4 linked regions of the Homo sapiens genome follow. The protein of the gene in region 3 purifies or fractionates together with the protein of the main gene of each other region. This does not show direct contact. Each region holds a gene or a part of one and is shown on either strand. Other genes may lie near its edges.

The links. Proteins that work in one complex are often made in the same cells at the same time.
Region 1: the proteins of SLK (region 3) and IMMP2L purify together in Homo sapiens (co-immunoprecipitation; one large-scale study listed by IntAct). This does not show direct contact.
Region 2: the proteins of SLK (region 3) and RABGAP1 fractionate together in Homo sapiens (co-fractionation; one large-scale study listed by BioGRID). This does not show direct contact.
Region 4: the proteins of SLK (region 3) and PPP1R2 fractionate together in Homo sapiens (co-fractionation; one large-scale study listed by BioGRID). This does not show direct contact.

The regions. Positions count from the first base shown.
Region 1 is NC_000007.14:111,559,693-111,563,755, forward strand, and holds the start of IMMP2L (mitochondrial inner membrane protease subunit 2), read right to left. Parts: upstream 2,801-4,063; 5' UTR 2,159-2,800; intron 1-2,158. UniProt on the Homo sapiens protein: Catalyzes the removal of transit peptides required for the targeting of proteins from the mitochondrial matrix, across the inner membrane, into the inter-membrane space. Known to process the nuclear encoded protein DIABLO.
Region 2 is NC_000009.12:123,101,520-123,105,019, forward strand, and holds the end of RABGAP1 (rab GTPase-activating protein 1), read left to right. Parts: intron 1-46; coding exon 47-244; intron 245-1,571; coding exon 1,572-1,694; 3' UTR 1,695-3,347; downstream 3,348-3,500. UniProt on the Homo sapiens protein: May act as a GTPase-activating protein of RAB6A. May play a role in microtubule nucleation by centrosome. May participate in a RAB6A-mediated pathway involved in the metaphase-anaphase transition.
Region 3 is NC_000010.11:103,970,140-103,973,639, reverse strand, and holds part of SLK (STE20-like serine/threonine-protein kinase), read right to left. Parts: intron 1-3,500. UniProt on the Homo sapiens protein: Mediates apoptosis and actin stress fiber dissolution.
Region 4 is NC_000003.12:195,516,627-195,519,325, reverse strand, and holds part of PPP1R2 (protein phosphatase inhibitor 2), read left to right. Parts: intron 1-140; coding exon 141-308; intron 309-2,383; coding exon 2,384-2,430; 3' UTR 2,431-2,699. UniProt on the Homo sapiens protein: Inhibitor of protein-phosphatase 1.

The DNA.
Region 1 (4,063 bases), on a different chromosome or scaffold from region 3:
TGACCACATAGAAAAACAGGGAGGGAAATTTAAAAGTAAGTACTTCTATGCCAGGCACTGTTTTTTCACACATTCTTTTATATATACTCTTTGTTCTGTTTTGATGGATAAGAAATCAAGCAGCAGAGAAATTTTAATGGCCCAAAGTGACACAGCTAATAAAATAAGAGCCAGAAATCAAGCTCATGTCCAAAAGACTGTAAAAGTCATGCTACTTCTACATGAAGTTGTGGGGTGGAGTGAGGAGGGGTGGTAAATAGCCAAGAAGAAGGAGAAAAAGAAAGAAATTTACAATTTTATCAAATAACAGTGAAATATATATATATAAAACATGTATTATGTTCCACATATGTTCCATATATAATACGCAGTTAAGATGTATACATGTTTAACATATACTTAAGCTGCATATTTAGTATGTGTATATATGGAACAAAAAGTTGAAGAAACAAGTATCAAATTGTTAAGTGGTCATCTGAAAGTGGACTCATAGGAAACTCACTTATTGCCTTTTATACCCTCCCAGATTTAATTCTAAATAACTTTTTTTTGACTTTTTATTACTCTTATAACCAGAAAAAGACAAAGAACTATTCTAGCTTAGATCTTTTAAATGAGGCTAAATGCACAGAAACCCATGCAAGTTAAAAATGGTCTACTTTCGAATTTATTTTTCTAAGTACATCATCCTTTACACTCTCCATGATTCCTAATATTAGGTCCTTCTTATGGAACAACTACAAAAGTTATCCTCATCTAATTATTATACTCGTACACTGGAAAATGACTATAACATTATTCATTATAGGAAACAAATCATCAAGGTCAGCCATCCTTGTAAGTTTATTACTGAAAGTACTAGAAAGGCGGAATAATAATTCTGTTCTCCCACAACACTGTATAGACCTGCAAACCACTATGATCAGTAGTACAGGGAAAGTCTTGTAAATTAACATGTAACTATTGAGAAAATCCACAAAACTGGTGAAAGGCCTACCCCAAAACAGCCATCTCCAATACAATCTCATCATTCTCACCATCCTACTTTTATCAAAGTGCTGATAAAAGTGCGTAGCACATGGTAAGAGAGAATTAGCTATTGAATCAATGAAGGAACCCATTATCAATAAACAATCACTTCCTGTTTTCCATAAATTATGTGGTCACCTATCACTTGAGCACAAACAAATAGGCACGTTCAGGACACAGGCAGCCAGTATCAGAATAGGCAGCCTATCACAGAGGGCAATTCTACTTTTCCTGTGTAAGAATCCAAGAATGCAGTTTTACTACATTCCTGCTTGTAGCTAATCTGAATTTCAACTAATTTAAAACGGTTATTTATATGTGACATATAGGATGCATAATGAGCTCCCAACCTTGTGAGAGGAGCTGTGTTTCATTTCACCATACAGGGGAGAGGGAAGCAGTGTATTAAAGAAGTGATAGAAAAGTCCCACAGAAGAACCAATGAAATAGACCACACTGAAAATCACAGTAAGCCTCAGAGAACTTCAGTGTCCTTTTTGGCAACTTTTCAAAAGTGAATGGAATGCTTGCCAGGAGGTACCAAGAGTGAAAGCCCAGAGAAAAAGGCCCAGCCTGGTCATCTCTCTCCCCTCAAAACATCTTCTTCTGTAAGCTTGAGAGATCCCAAAGAACTTCAACACTTGTAATCTTGTTACTAACTTTATGCTTTGGGGTCCTAAAGGATTTTTTCAGGAGTACCCTTTTAAAATGTAAACATCCCTAGGGGGGTTACTGTTCATTATCAAACAGGACCTGGATTCTTTAGTGCTATGGTCTCAGGGATTAGTCAAAGCTGGCTAATAAGATAGGGGCCGGAGACAGACAACTAGAGAGGACCAATGTTCCAAGGTAAAAACAGGTAAAGGGGAAGTGCAGTTTTCTGTCGGGTCAAGGGGCTAAAAGGGATCCACATGCCCAAGCTGTTAAACTCTATAGACTGTGTGAGGCTGAAAACAGTCCGGGGCCTGGAGCCTGTGACTTTGAAGGTGGGTCCTCCAGTTCCCGATGAAAAGGTAGAATCTGGGCCCAAGTTCCCCACGAGCAGTTCTGGACATCTAGCCCTTCTCTCTCTCGCTCGCTCTCAGGATAAAGTCCTAGGTCCTTCCACCCCTGACCATTCCTTACTTACCCTTTCTCCCGCTCTTCCTCGGTGAGAAGGGGTAAGTGGTTATTTTGTGCCCTCGCCCAATTTGGCCAAAACCCTAAAAGTAAAAAACGACAGACAGACACGTGCTTTAAAATCATGTTGTTCAAGCCTGACGCTCTCCCACCACCTGCCCAACACTTCCAGGCAGAAGGCAGCGCGCCCCCACAGCGCTCCCTCACGGCCAGAGCCGGGGGCCGGACTAGGCCCCTTTGTGAGGACTGGGAGAGGGCGCGTTGTTGGGGCGCCGGCTCGGCGGGGAGGAGCGGGCCAGCTCCGGGCCAGGTGTGCCGCCTGTGGCGCCGGTTTCTCAACCTAGTTAGCCAGTGGCACCAAGAAGAGGACTAGGCTGGGGTGGCCGCCGCACGCGCCTCAGATAAACACGCGCACGCACACATGCTCGCGATCACGCAGGACTCGCGGCCGCGCACCCCTCCGCCTCCCGGCAACGCCCGCCCCGCCGGGGCCGGGGCCGACTCCCAGGGAAGGGTCCCCAGCCCAAGAGACCACCAAGGGTCGGCGGCTACGCGCCCGCCGACCCCTGCCAGCCTCACAGCCCCCCACCCGCCGCCGGACGCCGGGCGCCCGCCCTCCGCACCCGCTGCGCAGCTCAGCCCGGGGGAAGTCCCCGCGCAGACCCCGCCCTCCGCCGGCGGCAAGCTCCGCCCCGCTGCCCCGTCGCGCGCTGGCCGCCCGAAGCTCCGCCCCCGGCGGAAAACTGGTCTCTGGACCGCCCGCCCAGGTCGGGCTCAAAATGCGGCGTGGATCTGAAAGGATCAAACACAACACTAATTCAGCAAGCTATTATTGAGCACTTGCCCTAAGCTCAGCAACGTACTAATGGGGGAGACTACAATAAAGAGCCGAAAAGTCTATGAAACTGTGTCTTCAGCTCTTCCTCTTGTTTTAGAAGCCAGGAAACAGAGAACCCTCACAGTTACTTAAGTACAGGGCAGTAGTGGCAAAGCACCTCACTAGCGATCTCTGGGCAACTCTTCATTTCATTTTTTCCTACTCATGAGCACTCAGGAAAACTATTCAGTTTTGCTGCCTCCAGGTAAAACAAAGTGAGTAACACAGGACAGGCGGTTTACTTGAGAGAAACGGGAATTTCATACTGAAGCTTTTGCCCTCAAATGGTACAAACTCTTTTTTTTTTTTTCCTGAGACGGAGTCTCGCTCTGTCGCCAGAGCGACACTGCAATCTCCGCCTCCCGGGTTCACGCCATTCTCCTGCCTCAGCCTCCCTAGTAGCCGGGACTACAGGCCCCCGCCACCATGCCCGGCTAATCTTCTTGTATTTTTAGTAGAGATGGGATTTCACCGTGTTAGCAAAGATGGTCTCCATCTCCTGACCTCGTGATCCGCTCACCTAGGCCTCCCAAAGTGCTAGGATTACAGGCGTGAGCCACTGCGCCCGGCCGAATGGTACAAACTCTTAACTGGGTTATTACAACCTACAAAGAAACCTTCTTATCCATGTTATTAATTATCCTAATTCAATGTGGTTTAAAATGTTGATGAAAGTACCCAAATCATGGTGCTCCAACAAGCTGGATGCCAACCAGGTACTCGTAAGTACTTGCAATTACAGGTGCGATATTTTCATTCCATATCATCCCAAGATGCCCTTCCTTCACGTGAAGCAGCCAGAAAGATCAACTACCAGATTCCGCATGATTGAGGAATTGATAAATAGAAAGGGAAGACCGAAACCGGCCAAATTTTCCCTTCGAAGTGAAACTTGAGAAACTTGCGTGCATTTTACCTGAGTTCCTTTCTCAGCAGATAAACTGTCAGACCTCCCAGATAGTGTCAAGGAAATGCAACTTTCCAGAACACTACATCTGGACAATGAGGTGCATCTGCTGCCTGTTCACAAACTCCTCT
Region 2 (3,500 bases), on a different chromosome or scaffold from region 3:
GCCAGTTCCTCTTCTTTGCCTCTTCACATCTAACATTCAATTTCAGCAAAAAGTGGATGACTGTGAGCGGTGCCGGGAATTTTTCAACAAAGAAGGGCGTGTAAAAGGCATAAGCTCAACCAAGGAGGTTTTAGATGAGGACACGGATGAAGAGAAAGAGACGCTCAAGAACCAGCTGAGAGAAATGGAGCTAGAACTGGCACAGACCAAACTCCAGCTGGTGGAGGCCGAGTGTAAGATACAGGTAACAGCAGCAGAGCTCAGACATGTGCCTGCGGGCTGGGTTTCCTGATGTGCACTAGAGACCCCAGAAATTATCTTTATGGTTTGGGGTTTTTCCACACCTTTTAAACTTTGGTCACAGTTGTCATGAGAAGAAATATAGGACTTGTTACTGGCCAGTGGATGTCTCATCAGTATTTGGCCTGTCTTGAGGATTTCCGCTGTCATATTGAGAATAATACACAAAAGCTTGGAATCTTTTGATGGGATGAGAAGACAGTGCTTTAGAAACACAGCTCTACCACTGAACTGTTTGACCTTGGGTTAGTAACCTCCCTACATCTCAGGTTCCTTATCTACAAATGGAAATGATGAGAGTCCCTATCTGATAGGTTGGTTTGAGGACTAAGTAAGATAGTGTGCACAAATGGCTTGGCAGAATGTCGGGGGCTTTATAAATGCAAGCTTTTGTTCTTCCAGTTCCCACCACTTAACTAGCTTTGTGACTGTTAATATACTACCTATCTGAGCCTCCTTTCCTGATAAAGAAGTTAGGGCTTGTTTTGGTCATCTTAATACACATTGCTAGGTCCACCAGCACCACTAAACCCTAAGCACTGTTTATGGAGGGAACAAGTTCAGGATAAAAGCTTTAGGGCTGATTCTCCCTCATGGCACACATTCACTGGGCATCTGCTCTTTGGCAGGCCCTGTTATAGGTCTGGGACTGCAAAGCTAAGGCCTGGTAGTGTGACTACCCGGAATAATCAGGAAAGGCATCACCAAGGCAGCAGTAGCTGTGCTGTGATCAAAGAATGCACAGGGCTTGTAGCTACAGGAGAGAGAGAACAGTGGCAATTCCAGGCAGAGGGAGTGGCATGTTCAGCAGCACAAGGAGGAGAGTGGCTGCCCAGGAAGGACCCTCAGGAGTTCTTTCCTTGCAGTAGGGGATGGAGGTGGTGCTAAGGCTGGAAGAGAGTGTGTGGATCCAGATTGCGAAGCATTTCAAATGCCATGCTAGGGAGTTTAAAGATTTTTGCCAAAATGAAATGATGTCACCAGAAATAGAGCATTACCTGTCTGCCTGGTGTGCATTAGGTGGACAGAAGAGGGAGACATAGCAAGTAGAAGACTGTTTTAATAAATAGACCAGGCAAGAAATTAGATCTTAACTAAAAGCTCCCAAATCTTTAGGCATTTCAGGCATTTCTATGCCAGTTGGAGACTGGGGGAATTCCCCGAGGCCTCTCCAGAGTAAATAGACTGCATTCTTGTCTTGGTTCTCCTCTGGGGAGCCAGTGTCATTGACACCAAGCCCAGCATCCTCATGCACACTGTTCCTCTTGCAGGACTTGGAACACCATTTAGGGCTTGCCCTCAATGAGGTGCAGGCAGCCAAGAAGACGTGGTTTAACCGAACACTGAGCTCCATAAAGACAGCAACCGGGGTTCAAGGGAAAGAGACTTGCTGAGAGCAGCTGCCGCCTCCCGACACCTTCAGAAAACACGACACCTTTTGTTGCCTTCTTTGGCCAGATGTGTGATTCTGTGACTTGTCCCAGGACCAGAATGTACCTAAGTCAGATCCATAGACGCATGTTGGTAGGTCACTGGACCAGAGCTTGTGAAGCAGGCAACCTCTGGGGTAAGACTACTGATACTAACAGGCCTGCTAGCTCAGCCGACGCTCTGGACACTCTAGAAATCACTCCTCAGTGTGACCTCCCAGGCCTCTTCCCCGTGTACGTCAACACCTCACCCAGCCTAAAGGCTGAGTTTACATGATCAGAGTTAGGGGATCCTTCAGTCTGTTGATTTTTTTTCTAAACCTTTTTTTTTTAATATACATATATATATATATATATATATATATATATATATATATATATATATATAGTGGGGGTGGGGCAAGGGATCAGAAATTCAAATAATTCTTTTCTGCTTCAATGCCAGCAGAAGGTCCCCCAGGTAGACATGGAGAAGCACTTTGTTTTAAATAGGAGGGTTTCATAGTTGCATCTGAAGCCACCTGGTTCTGTTAAACTGTATGGTGCAGGTTTTGGGTTTGGCATTATTCATGTTTCTGATCAATTCTATGCAACTCTCATAGTTCCTGTTACTTTTTAGCATTAGCTGCCAAATGACTTCAAAAGGCTGGGGTGGGTGACTTGACTGTGAGACTGGATTATAACATGGACAAATCTTATTTTGCTTAATGTGTTTGTGTGTGTGTGTGTGTGTGTGTGTGTGTGTGTATGTATATATATATATAAATATCTTTCCCAATATGCCCCGTTGACAGTGTTTAAATTCCAGACTAGGACTGCTGATCTGCACAATTTAATTATGTGGTTATTCGAGCACTTAATTTCACTCAAGGTTCATTGGGCTCTGCTCTCCTCCCTGCCATTACGGGAGCTGTGGACAGAGCTCCCTCACTTCAAGATTCCTAGTGTTTTTGCACAACAGGTTGTCCAAGTGAGAAAGACTGAGTTGCGTGTCTGTAAATGTCTGCGCAGGGTGCACATGCTGCGAGGTCTCCATCCTCCGGGCCTGTCCCTCCCAGATGGGCTGGGCCTTTGGGCCCTCCTCAGAGTATGCCTGGGTACAAACCTCACTGTTCAGATGGGCTGTAAGTTCTCACTTCAAAGCTATGGAATGGATTTTAGCACCTTTAAAAAAAAAAAAAACTTTGACTTTTAATTTATATAGTGATATGCTGACAGGCTGACACGCAGATGGTTTTGTCCTCTTTTCTGCGTTCAGTGTTGAGGCGGCTGCTTACAAGAGGCACTGGTTTTGTATATAAAGACACTCGGGTTGTTTTGTAGCTCTTTTTCTTATTGGCTGTACTAACGCTTGCTGAGGTTATCTGTAATAAGGGAGGTAACAAGTGGCAACCCCCTCCCCACCAACCATCCCCTTTGCTGCTTTCTGTGTCTTTCTTGTTCAGTTACCAAAATAGCTGTAAGCCTATCTAATGCTAGGTGTGTGGACATTGTGCTAAGGTAGTTTCAGTGTGTCAACTTTATGAATTGAAATATAAACCAGTAAAATTGTATTACTGTTTCTTTTGTTGGTTTTATTTTAACAGCATATTGATTAAATATTTTGGTACAAACAAACAGCATTGCTTTGTAAAAACCAGTTTTGTCATCACCTACTCCTGTCGCCTCCCCTTCTTCCCTCATCCCCTGCGCACAGAAGCAGTCAGAGAAGACCACTGTGTGTGCTGTAAGAGAGGCATGTGTGAGCGCGAGGCAGCCCCTCACCCACCT
Region 3 (3,500 bases):
AAAAAAGACCTAAACAGAGATAAAACATGCACAGGTGGGAAGACTCAATATCAAAGAGAGGTTAATTTTTCCAAAACTGATTTATAAATTCAATGAAATCTCTCCAAAAAAACACAGATTTTTTGTGGCACTCAACCAGGCTAACTGGAAAATGTACATAGAAGCCCTAAGGGCCAACAATACTACTAAACTATGTTGAAGAAGCAGCAGAAATTTATTTTAATTCTTTCCTAATTAAGACAGTGGGATACTGGTATAGGAATAGACAAATAGATCAATGAAGAGAACGGAGAATGCAGAAACAGACACATGCTACATAACAGGGCACTGCAGAGCAGTGGGGAATTATTTTTCTTCCCAGCAAATAGTTCTGGGACAATTGTGTATCCATATGGGGAAAAAAATGAAACTGGACCCCTACCTCATACCATTTACAAACATCTATTCTAGGTAGATTATAGATCTAATTGTTAAAGAAAAGCAAAATCATAAAGCTTTTAGAAGATAATATAGAAGATTATCTTCATGATCACACATTAGGAAGAAATGTCTTAAACATAACACAAAAAGCATCAACTGTAAAGGAAAAAACTAACAAATTGGACCATGTTAAAGAATTCATAAAAAGACACTACAGTGAGAATGAAAAGACAGGTCTCAGAATGAGACTATATTAGCAATAACTATCACCAGCAAATGGTTAAAATTCAAAACACATATATTGTACACACACACAATCAACATACAAACAAAGACTTCAAGAGAAAAATGGATAAGAGACTTGAACACAAAAGAAGAAATTCAAATTACCAAAAACATATTAAAAGAATTACTTTTAGTAATCTGTGAAAGGTGAATTAAATGCACAATGAGAAATGTAACACATTATCAGCCTGTCAAAACTTTAAAATTCTGACAATATTAAATGTTAGCAAAGATGCAGAGCAAGGAAATTTTTTTTTTTTTTTGAGACGGAGTCTTGCTCTTTCGCCCAGGCTGGAGTGCAGTGGTGCGATCCCGGCTCACTGCAAGCTCCTCCTCCCGGGTTCACGCCATTCTCCTGCCTCAGCCTCCCGAGTAGCTGGGACTACAGGCTCCTGCCACCACGCCCGGCTAATTTTTTGTATTTTTAGTAGAGACGGGGTTTCACCGTGTTAGCCAGGATGGTCTCGATCTCCTGACTTCGTGATCCGCCCGCCTCGGCCTCCCAAAGTGCTGGGAATACAGGCATGAGCCACCGCGCCTGGCAGGGCAAGGAAATTCTTCAACTGCTGGTGGGAATGTAAACTTGTATAATTAGTTTGGCATCATCTGGTAAAATTAAAGATACACTACCCTATAACCTAGCAATTCCATTCCTGGATTAACTCTTAGTGAAACTCATGTATATGTGCAACTACCGTTTTGTGTAAGAGCCAAAAACTGGAAGCAACCAATATATCCATTAATTGTACAATAGTAAATAATTGGTGATATCATCATATAATAGAATACAATGCTACAACGAAAAAGAACTACAGCTCTATGTGATAAAGATGAACCTCACAAACACAATACTGACTTTGAAAGAGGCAAGACACAAAAGAATATGTTCAATATGATTCCATTCATATAAAGTTCAAGTGCATACAAAACTAAATTTATAACATTTAGGGATATAATCCTAGATAGTAAATGATTAAGAAAAGCAAATAAATGAATAACTTAAAGATAGGATAGTGGTTTCCTTTAGGGAGAGAGAAGATATTAGATACAGAAAGGAGGCAAGAGGGATTCTCGGATGTTAGCAGAATTCCTTGACACTGACAGTTGTTAATAATAATTCACTTTATTATCTGCTAAATGTATATGTTTCCATACTTTTTAATACAAAGATTATATATTTTACTATTTTTTAAAAGGCACACAGCCATCAGTTGTCATATAAAAACTACTTTCATCCAGCACACAGCCAAGAGTTTAGTTTCAACTGGTTTAATAGATAAAATAGCTTTCTAGAAATGCAATTCAATTCATAATCTTATGTCATTCTTTTTTTTCTGTTAAAAACAAGAGAAATCCAGCAGGGGGTGAGGGGCAGTGGCTCATGCCTCTAATCCCAACACTTTGGGAGGCCAAGGCAGGCGGATCACCTGAGGTCAGGAAAGACCACCCTGGCAAACATGGTGAAACCCCGTCTCTACTAAAAATACAAAAAATTAGCCCGGCACGGTGGTGCGTGCCTGTAATCCCAACTACTCCGGAGGCTGAGGCAGGAGAATTGCTTGAACCTGGGAGGCGGAGGTTGCAGTGAGCCGAGATTGCGCCACAGCACTGCAGCCTGGGCGACAGAGAGGGACTCCATCTCAAAACAAAACAAAACACAAACAAAACAACAACAACAAAAAAAGAGAAACCCAAAGATAAAATATTGTGAAGGATATTACATATCTTCATTTATATGTCAAATAATACTATTTTTAAAAGAGAAAATAAATTTAAAGTAGTGAAGCTTTTTCAGGCAAGGAAGTAACTGTTAAATGTGTACAGTGCTGGACTGAGTGGAAGGAATACAACAAGTACACGATGGAAGAATGACTCAGACTAAATACACAACATGATTACCTATAGGTTACACATCCCAAATCTGAAAATCTAATCTGAAATGCTCCAAAATCTGAAACTTTCTGAGTGCTAACATGACATGATGTTCAAAGGAAATGATCACTAGAGCATTTTCAATTTCAGATGTTCAATAACTAAGTATAATGCAAATATTCCAAAATCCAAAAAATTCCAAAATCCAAAACACTTCTGGTCCCAAGCATTTGGGAAATGGGATACTCAACCTCATCTCTATTTACAATATAATCTTTGTAACAGTTACTAATTTCTGTAAGCAAATGATAGTTAGAATCAAGTTTATAAACAGTTTTCTACTACATACTACTACGTACTATGTTAAGGTTCCATAGCTTTTTCTTCCAAATATAAGGAAGTTTATAAATCCTCAATTTCTATGGAATCTTGAAAAACAAAAACTTTTAGAAAAAAGAGGCCATAAGAAGACAGATAAGTTTTAATTTCAAATTTTATTTTTTAAAAAACTCATACCCTACTCCTTAGAAGCAGAGAGTAGTGAAATGAAAAAAGAAAAAATAGTGCCAGCCCGTGCTCTTCAAATATCATACTAAAATACAGTCATCAAGATCACAGAAATTCTCCTTGACACAATTTTATAGTGCTCAAATAACTACATGAAATAAGACTCTTGTTCTTCAGAAATTTTTCAATTAATGTCTCAGTACAGGAAGATAGATCACATTTTGCAGAAAGTGTCATGAAAGAATAACACAGGGCTTTAGTATCTCCACACAGTCTGCCCATGCCATTAGAAACCAACAAAATGGTTTATTATCTTCTTGGTTCCTTTCCCTATCTCATCCCAAAGTTTGCATCTATGAGCTCTAAATGTAATAACAGTAATTTCTACCATTTACTGAGCCCTTTCCATGTGCCTT
Region 4 (2,699 bases), on a different chromosome or scaffold from region 3:
TCTGCCATTGAACACAAAAGCAGCCTTAAGCATGACAAAAACAAATGAGCATCACTGTTTCAATAAAATTTTATTTATAAAACAGGCATGGGCCAATCCTTGAGCTCAAACTTCCTAAGTTTACATTTTGCATCTTATAGAAAAAAAGCGACAATTTGAAATGAAAAGGAAGCTTCACTACAATGAAGGACTCAATATCAAACTAGCCAGACAATTAATTTCAAAAGACCTACATGATGATGATGAAGATGAAGAAATGTTAGAGACTGCAGATGGAGAAAGCATGAATACGGAAGAATCAAATCAAGGTTAGATGTTTGGAAAATGTCACTGAGACTTTTGTAATGGTCTATGCCTAAGATAATGTACTTTATTTTGCTTTAAACTTGTGAAAAAACAGAAAATTTTGCTGAGATTCGCTTTATTATACCAAATGTTTCTAAAGTTTTAACCCGCATGGCCAATTTCAGAATAATAAAGTTTTTATACCTAGAGTTGATTTGATTTTAGACCATATGTTTTATTATATGGCTTTCTTATGGTTTACTTGCCTTTAGGCAAGGATGTTTGTCTTCATATTAAGCTATATTTTGTTTTGAATATTTTAGGTCATGTTGTATTTGTCATAACGATCTAAAATTTAAAATTTTTAAATGAAACTTTTTTTTTTTTTTTGAGACAGAGTCTCGCTCTGTCACCCAGGCTGGAGTGCAGTGGCGTGATCTCGGCTCACTGCAAGCTCCGCCTCCTGGGTTCCCGCCATTCTCCTGCCTCAGCCTCCCGAGTAGCTGGGATTACAGGCGCCTGCCACCACGCCTGGCTGATTTTTTGTATTTTTAGTAGAGATGGGGTTTCACCATGTTAGCCAGGATGGTCCCAATCTCCTGACCTTGTGATCCGCCCGCCTCGGCCTCCCAAAGTGCTGGGATTACAGGCATGAGCCACCGCGCCCAGCCTGAAACATGTTTTTAGTATGGAAGATTTGGTTTTACATCCCGTTAGATACAAAGTATGTCATATCTTTCCAATACGGATTCTTTTGACTGTTGGATTGACAAGTTATTTAACTGTTTTTGTTTTTATTTTTTTTTTAAGTCTTAGACACCCAGCCCCTGCAGCCTAGCAACTCCTGATCTGTCATAGGAAATAGGTTTTATTTATTTTTTATGAACTGTTACTCTGGTATTTAATGAAGTGAATCTTCTGCATCACTAATGGAGATTTTTTGTGCCCACCACCTACTCCTTGTACTTACAAACTTCATACTTTTCAGTGGAGGCGTAACTGATGTTATTTGTGGTGCCCAGAATGGTTAAGTCTTAGGAAATTAAATAATTATTGTATTACCATTTTGGTAAGCATAGTATTAAATATGAATAATTCTATGATACAGCCTGATGAGTTGCTGTCTCATAGTGTCAGGATTACAGTACTTTTTGTTATTCCGTAATATGCTTCAACCTTTTAGTCTATTTCATATAGCCTTTCATTTCCATTATATATCCCATAGTCTGTTTAACTTATATTTAACTTGAGCAAACTTCATCTTACATAGTAGCTGTGGCATGTTTTTATTATCCATTTTTATTTTTATTTTATTTTTTGTTATAGAGGCAGCGTTTTTTGTTTGTTTGTTTTAACGCCATTTCTTTTGAAAAATAACTATGGCATTTTGTCCGTCTCTGCTTATAAGATATTACATTTCACATATTTAGTACATAAATATATTTTTTGTTTAAGTTTAATGGAGGATTAAAATTTTGTATTAGGTCAGTGCCTGATTTTTCTTCACTGGAGATGAAGTACACCTTGCAAAGGAGTATATCCTGCTTAGCATTATAAAACCCACAAGAATAGGATAAGACTTAGGGAAATAAGTACCTTATTTACCCCCTACCCTTTTTGGGCCCTTAACATTTTACCAGCTTTTCAGATCTCTAAGTTCTATAGAACCCATTAGTTTTGGGACAGTGCCAGTCTCCTCCCTTCCCCCTTTCCTCCCCCATTCACACAATTCATTGGAGAAAATGACATGTTTGGACTCTTAGGTGATATTTTATAGCTTTCAGGTAATAAATATGTATCTTTTTATAGCTCTGGATATTGGAGTTGTCGTAAACTCTTACCTTTCCACCTGTGACTTACAGAAATGTTCAATCTGAAACCTGTTTGTTTTATCAGCAAGTAGACACTTCTGTTCTTTAGACTATTTAGGGGAGTGTATAGATTCTTCAATTTCAGTCTAAATCAGCCTACATGAAATATACCTTATTTGTTTTTAAAATTTTTATATTTGCTTGTCATGCATGCTAATAGAAGGGAACTTTAGCCAGGGTTGACAACATATAACAAATTATGTTGACTTTTTCTTTTATCTTTGCAGGATCTACTCCAAGTGACCAACAGCAAAACAAATTACGAAGTTCATAGACGAGATTTGTTCAACACTGCAATTGTTTGTTAGATGTAAACCCTGTGACTATAGTACGTTGCTTCTTGTTCTTCACAATTCATGACTTAAGTACCAAAATGCATACCAGTTATTATATATTGCCAAGAATTAAATGATAAACTTAGAGACTGATTAGACTGAAAATGCCTAATCGATATATATATTCTTGTGCCTAGTACTTTACCACAAATACAGTGTAATATCATCAGTCCAAAACTGCATTACTTTTGTAAAAACACTGGTTAAT